2 linked regions of the Homo sapiens genome follow. The protein of the gene in region 2 purifies or fractionates together with the protein of the main gene of each other region. This does not show direct contact. Each region holds a gene or a part of one and is shown on either strand. Other genes may lie near its edges. The genes, in order: PGM3 and PGM5.

Evidence for each region.
Region 1: the proteins of PGM5 (region 2) and PGM3 fractionate together in Homo sapiens (co-fractionation; one large-scale study listed by BioGRID). This does not show direct contact.

What each region holds. Positions count from the first base shown.
Region 1 is NC_000006.12:83,164,050-83,166,819, forward strand, and holds the end of PGM3 (phosphoacetylglucosamine mutase), read right to left. Parts: 3' UTR 2,418-2,770; coding exon of another isoform or gene 2,338-2,417; 3' UTR 824-2,337; downstream 1-823. Other genes in the region: protein DOP1A, read left to right, coding at 611-670. UniProt on the Homo sapiens protein: Catalyzes the conversion of GlcNAc-6-P into GlcNAc-1-P during the synthesis of uridine diphosphate/UDP-GlcNAc, a sugar nucleotide critical to multiple glycosylation pathways including protein N- and O-glycosylation.
Region 2 is NC_000009.12:68,355,033-68,359,602, forward strand, and holds the start of PGM5 (phosphoglucomutase-like protein 5), read left to right. Parts: upstream 1-1,578; 5' UTR 1,579-2,095; coding exon 2,096-2,356; intron 2,357-2,570; exon of another isoform or gene 2,571-2,834; intron 2,835-4,570. UniProt on the Homo sapiens protein: Component of adherens-type cell-cell and cell-matrix junctions. Has no phosphoglucomutase activity in vitro.

The sequences.
Region 1 (2,770 bases), on a different chromosome or scaffold from region 2:
CAAAATCAAATTGTACAATTTGGGAGTGATCTAGGTTGTCTGGTGAGATCTAGTATGCAGTGTGTGCTTTGAGTGCTCAGAAATTTTCCAGTCTTCTGGAGTCCTCCTAATCAGGCAGCAGCTCTTAAACTGAATTCCATAACTATAAAAATGGAATGAAGAAAGTGATTAAAGAGATTTTGCTGGAAGGAATTTACATGAGAAAACTTGACTTAAATTCCTAGTTGCTTCTGTAGGGGCTTAATAAAAGGACAGAGATGAGGATGTATGCTGGGTCCTGAGTTCAGGGTAGGACTTTGGTACTTTCAATTTGATATCTCAGAGTTTGGGCAAGTAATCATGACAAATCCAGAAGCAAATATGACCCCAGGCACATGTCCTTTTCTGTTATGCCTGCCTTTCATTAGTAATGAGAATTTTTATAAGACCCCCCTCCTTTATCTAAATAATAAATATGACAGTCTTTTGCCCAAAATTTGTCCCACAGAATAAGAAAACTATTTTGATTGAAAGGCATCTTCCCATCCAAATCACCTTAAACAAGGTCTTCATGGCCAAGCATACTTTTCACTGGAACAAAGGCTGTGAGTTCTCCTCTTTCCTTCCACAGGACAAGGAGGAGGACTTTAAGACAGTGATTTTGGAGGGATTGGAGATGGCCAAGCATCAGGTGAGGGTGGCTGTTTCATGCTTATGATATGGCAGCAAAAGTTGCCAAATATTGAGACACAAACCCAGGTCTGAATGTCAACAAGTACAAGGGAGGTAAACAGGAAGGAAGTCTTTTTTCAAGTGTGGACTGGTGAAGTCAAAGGAGAAATCATTTGTATGGAAACATTTGACTTTATTTAATATTGAGACAATACATATAGTTCTGATTAAGAGCATCAGAAACTCTGAATCAAGTGTATTCTTCTTGGTCAAGAGCTTAATAAAAGTCCCTCTCTTAAAGGCTCATCTTGATAGGAATAGAAACAAAAGGTTACCCCATAGTTCTCTTACATTTGGAAGTTAGCTATATAGAGGGTACAAGGATATTCATTTTCCTTCAGGACAAAGTCATCTCTGTACGCCCTTTATTGTTGAATTGCAGTTTGATTTAGGGGATTAGAGGTGGTATGGTACCAGTAATTGAGTAATGGTGGAAATGTGAAAGTCAGTCACAGGACTCTCATTGGTGCCAGTGTCATAGTTAAGAAAGAAAGAAAGAAAGTTTTATATATCCTGTAATCTAGACTGGAAGCTAAATAATTGCTAGGAAGCAAACTTAAGTGATAGCTGTTAAGTTTTTTGGTTTGTTTTTGACCAGAGATGATGAAGTAGGTGATCTTTTCTTGGTTTGCTCCTAGACTCTTCCATTTTAACTTATATTTTTAGTTTGGTGCAAAAGTAATTGCTGTTTGGGACCATGAATTTTAAGTCATTATAACTAGGTTCACACAAATCTTTATTAATTAAAATAGGAACCATTACAATCAACACATTTTTGCCAATGAGAAATAAGTTTGTTTACTCCTGTAGCATAAAAATCCATGCTTCCAAATTTGACGAACTCTTGGAAAGCATTTTCTGTGTCCTGCTAGTTGTGGAAGCAATTTCCCTGCAAAACGTTGCTGAGATGCCTAAAGAAGTGGTAGTTTGTTGGCAAGAGGTCAGGTGAATATGGCAGATGAGGCAAAACTTCATAGCCCAATTAGTTCAATTTTCGAAGCGTTGGTTGTGCAACGTGCGGCCCAGTGTTGTCGTGAAAAGAATTGGGCCCTTTCTGGTGGCCAATGCCGGCTGCAGGCATTGCAGTTTTTGGTGCATCTCATTGATTTGCTGAGCATACTTATCAGATGTAATGGTTTCACCTGGATTCAGAAAGCTGTAGTGGATCAGACTGGCAGCAAACCACCAAACAATGACCATGACCATTTTTTGGAGCAAGTTTGGCTTTGGGAAGTGCTTTGGAGCTTCTTTCAGTCCAGCCACTGAGCTGGTCATCGCCAGTTGTCGTATAAAATCCACCTTTTGGCACACATCACAATCCGATAGAGAAATGATTCATTATTGTTGCATAGAATAGAGAAAATGACACTTCAAAACAACGAATTTTTTTATTTTTCACTCAGCTCATGAGGCACCCATTTATTGAGCTTTTTCACCTTTTCAATTTGCTTCAAATGCCGAACGACCATAAAATGGTCAACATTGAGTTCTTGGGCAGCTCTCTTATAGTTGTAAGAGGATCAGCTTCGATGATGTTCTCAATTGGTCATTATCAATTTCCGATGACTGGCCACTGCACTCCTCATCTTCAAGGCTCTAGTCTCCTTTGCAAAACTTCTTGAGCCATCACGGCACTGTATGTTCATTAGCAGTTCCTGGGCCAAATGCATTGTTGATGTTGTGTGTTGTCTCTGCTGCTTTATAACCTATTTTGAACTCAGAAAATCGCTAAATTTGATTTTTGTCTAACATCATTTCCATAGTCTAAAATAAATATAAACAGCAATAAGTCATTAGCAAAAAAAAAGTGAGAAATATGCTTAAAATGATGTATAACATAACCACATTTATTTAAGAATGTACTCCAATATAAAACGGCAAATTTCAACAATGCAAAAACCGCAATTACGTTTGCACCAACCTAATATTTTCCTTTTTCAGGATTTTACTTTAAAATAAGCAATAAGCTTGAGAGCACATAGAAGAAAATAAGCTGGATTTTGCATCTGCTTGACCCACTAGGAAACTAGTGATATTAAATTATTAGGTAAACAATGAA
Region 2 (4,570 bases):
TCCCCGACTGGCCACACTATTCTTTTAAAAAAATGTTAATTGACAAATTAAAATTGTATGTATTTACGGAGGTATGATGTGATGTTATGATATATGTATACATTGTGGAATAATTAAATCCAGAGAATTAATAGATTCATCACCTCAAAACCTATCTTTTTTGTGGTGAGAACATTTGAAATTTATTGTCTTAGCAATTTTGAAATACACAATACTTCATTGTTAACTACAGTCACCATGCTGTGCTGTAGATCTCAACAAAATATATTCCTCCTGTCTCAACTAAAACATTGTACTCTTTGACAACATTTCCCCATTCCTCTCACCCCCTCCAAAAACACCCATTCTTTATGTTGAAGAGAATGGCTAAAAAGTCCCAGCAGGTTTCAACAGACGGCTTCAGTGGTTGTCCCATCACACTTCAATGTTATTAATAAAAAGGGGAGGGGCAATACATAATTCGGACAGGCTGAAAGTACCATTGTAACCACTTTCTTGACTTCACAGAAAAAGTCCTCTTGTTTTCATCTGTAAAATGGGAACTGCATGAATACCATTCTTCTTTTCTTCAGCCTCCAAAGAAAAAACAGATGCAAAGCCTTTAATCAATTGCAAAACAGTATACAATGTGTGTTATTACTCACAGTTGTCTTACTGTGACCAAACACTTTATAAGCCTGCGGCAAGTCAGCCTTACTCTCAGTAAGTGGACAATATTTGGGGAAGGAGAAGCAGCAGGATATTTCAGGACAGTAGCCTTGGTGGGTCCAAAAATTCCTTGAGAGAAATGGGAGATAGAACTTTCTTCCTGCTTTGGGTTTTATCCTGTTAGTCTTTTCTCTCTTCACTCCTATTTTCTATGGAGAATTTCCTGGTTTTGGAGTTTGGGTGCGTTTTATGGAGAGGAGGCAGAAAATCTTTAGCTCCAGCAGAATGAAAGGATACATGCAAAGGAACCTAGCACAGTATCTGGTACCCAGGTCTCCTTTAACTTGGCTTTATTCATTCACTCCTGGTAGGGCATTAATAAGGGATTTAGCCCCCTCCTATTGAAAACGATTAATTCAAGGAAGAGTTCAGACAGTGTGGACAGATACAGTGTAGGAAAGCCTATTTCTAAGGCAGGAGCTGGGTAGGGAGGGTGAGAAGGGCGAGAAGAATAGGGAAATATGTGTCGTCTGTGTTGCTGCTGTTGCAACCACCACAACAAACAAACAAGTGAAAAAAAAAAAAAAAAAAAAAAAGAATTGTCCATACCGGAAAGTGTGCTGTTTTGGAGGAGGCTGGGGAAAGTGTGGATGGCTCGAGTGGGTCCTGTTGGATTGAAGTCTGACAGTGGTGATTCCCTTCAACAAATGGTCGGGGTGGGAGGGTACACACACACACACACACACACACACACACCCCACACGCAGCGCCCAGCCTCCGATTTCAGCGCTGGCAGGAGATAACCATTCTTAGCTCGCCTTTCCAGGGTTATTTTTGGCTGAGGCTGTTCGCTGATGGCAAAAGGTTTCAGCCCCCTCCCAAATCCCTCCCCGTCCTTGTTCTAAAGAGAAACTGGTGTGTGTAGGCTGCGCACTCCCAGGGAGACAGGGAGACGGGCCGGGCGCCGGAGAGGAACCCGGACTCTGCCCAAAGTCTCGCCGCCCGCCGGCTGTTTTCTGGCGGAGGGTGTGCCCCGGAGGGCGGCGATCGCGGGTGAAGGCTGGGGCCAGGCGCGGGTGGAGGCGTCACCGGGGTCGGGCTAGCAGGCCCTGGAATCAGGCTTTTGGGACACCCCGAAAGTGAGTCCAACTTGGGGAGAAACTGAGGGCAGCTCGGGCGGTCTGGCAGCGGAGAAGGTGGGTGGGAGAAAACTTTACAGGAAGGCAGAAGCAATCTCTGCCGAGAGAGTCAGCCGAGCGGCCGCGCGGAGAGGAGGGGCGGGCGGTCCCCAGGCGGGCGGGTGCAGGGCGCAGGGCGCCGACCTGCTGGAGAGGGGGCCCGGGCGCGAGGCGGAGTCCCGGCGCGCAGCCAGGCTGGTGGAGGCCCCCGGCAGGCTGCAGATTCCCTCCGGCTCCGGGAGCCGCAGCAGGACCGGCCAGGAGGCGCCATGGAGGGGAGCCCCATCCCGGTGCTGACAGTGCCCACCGCGCCCTACGAGGACCAGCGGCCGGCCGGCGGCGGGGGTCTGCGGCGACCCACCGGCCTCTTCGAGGGCCAGCGCAACTACCTGCCCAACTTTATCCAGAGCGTGCTGTCGTCCATCGACCTGCGCGACCGTCAGGGCTGCACCATGGTGGTGGGCAGCGACGGCAGGTACTTTAGCAGGACGGCCATCGAGATCGTGGTGCAGATGGCCGCGGCCAACGGGGTGAGTGTCCGGATGCCCCTCGCTTCCCGCCGCGCCGCCGCCATGCCCTCTCCTAGCCCTTGTCCCCCTGCTGCCTCCGGGCCCAGTTGGGAGGCCCCTGCCCGGCCCCGGCTTTGCTACCTCACTCCCGCGTCCTCACCCTCCAGCGCCCCACTCCCGCCGCGCTCGCAGCCTCCCCGGTGCACCCCGGACACTGGGTTCTATTAGTACCCACCGCCCCCAAAAGCCTTGAGGGGTTTCCGTCGTTCCTGGAGCCACTCCGGGCGCCCTGGACTCTTCTCCGACTCTGCGCACATCCCGCACCTGCTCATTTTTCTTTCGGACATTCTCTTACCCGGCCCTGTAGATTCCAAGGCAGCTCCCAGTTTTCCATATTGTTCCCAACGCATTCACTGCCCACAGTCCCCACACAAACTTCTTTCGCAGGCTCACAACATAGTCCCTCTGCCCCGTGCCCTTTTTGCAATAATCTGCCAGTCCCCTAAGTCTTAGCTCTGCCTATTTAACAGTAGTGGTGTCTCAGAACACACACACACACACACACACACACACACACACACACACACACACACACACGATCCCTGACATATTTGGCAAGAGTAGGCCCTGAAGGTTTTTATTATTTTGGTTCTTTAACCCAGTGGAATTACTGAATGATTTATTTAATTAGGGTAGGGATGGAGTGGATCCATTTGTTTGATGCTAAACAGCCTGAGCTCGCAGTTCCCAGGGGGCATATCTCTAAATGGTCTGAAATGAGATTTGCAGTGGTTTTCTTAATGCAATTCCCAACTTCTCTCCAAATGCCTTTTGGCATTTGACAACATTTCATGCCTCTTCCCCTTTCGGTTTTCATCCTTGTTTTCTCTCCCTTCTCCCACGACCTCGGTAGTCTTCTGCAATCCAGATTCTCAGACTTCAGGTTTTTCTCCCTCTGCCCCTTTCCTCTCTGTCCTATAACTAGAAGCACCTTTTGGCATAGACCCATATCCCAGTTTCCTCTTTCCCAGGTCCAGCAGCATCTCAAGGACATCTACAAGAGGGATACCTAATTTCAGGGGTCTCTGAATTATATGTGGGAAACATCGTCTAAAAAAGTAATTTTATCCTTATTCATGCAACCAGACCCACACTCATAGAACTTTTCTTTAAGGAAAGTGTCTTGCAGATGTATAAATGAGTGTTAACATCTTTAAAAGCGAAACTGAACAATTCCCTGGCATTTGAATTCCCTCCTTCCTTCCCAACCCTCTCCTTTTCATTTTCTCATTTATTATTAAAAACATTTTTAAAGGATCTCCATGCTTCATATTTATCTACTATAATTCCTCCTTCTCGGTGTTGCAGGGATGGGGAAAGAGGATTTTTTTAAAAACATAATAAAACGCAATTGGGAGAAACAGGGCCAGTGGTGTTGGGGTGGGTAGTGGAATTGTGATTTTTGACTCCAGTAGACAATGATGCTGGATATATGGGGTTTGATTTATCTCTGGCTCCTCACTTGGGATTGATGAAGTTTGGCTAGAATCAGGGAGTTGAAGAGAGGTTGACAAATGGTCTTTCACTCTTCTCTGACAGGCTGTTCCTGTGGAGTGATGGAGAATAACGAGCCTTGGGAGAGCTATGGGAGCTCTCATACTTCTTCCCGAGCCAATTTTTTAGGGAGTGAGAGAAACATGGCCTGTCCAATACTTGTTGTGGGTCAGGATATTTTTGAAGCTACGGTTGTTGATTTGCATGGGAAAATTATTATGTCTTATTATTTCTTGTCCCACTTTACCATAAGGACTCCTCAGCTTCTTACTTCAATGGGTCTTCTATGACAAACACACTTTATTAACTCTAAGAGTGGAATTTATTTTAACAGATAATTAGCATAGGTCAATATATGCTTAAAATAGGGTCAAATTAAACCTACTAGCTGTTATAAAGGACAGATGACAAATTAAAATCCACATAGAAGCATCGACTCTTAAATAATCTGAAAGTACTACTTCTAAGAGGGGTGGGCATGGGTGAAGGGAATGGTGGACATGTTTCAGAATTTCAAACAGCCAACTTTAACCAATCTTTTCCTCATTTTGTTCACCTTCTTGGGGGCTTATGCTAAAGTGAAGTGAATAGCCATAAGGCTGGCTTCAGGAGAAAGGTGGTCTAAAAGAACTGGATAATTATAAGCAAAATTGGTCTTGAATGATTGAAAATTGATGAGAA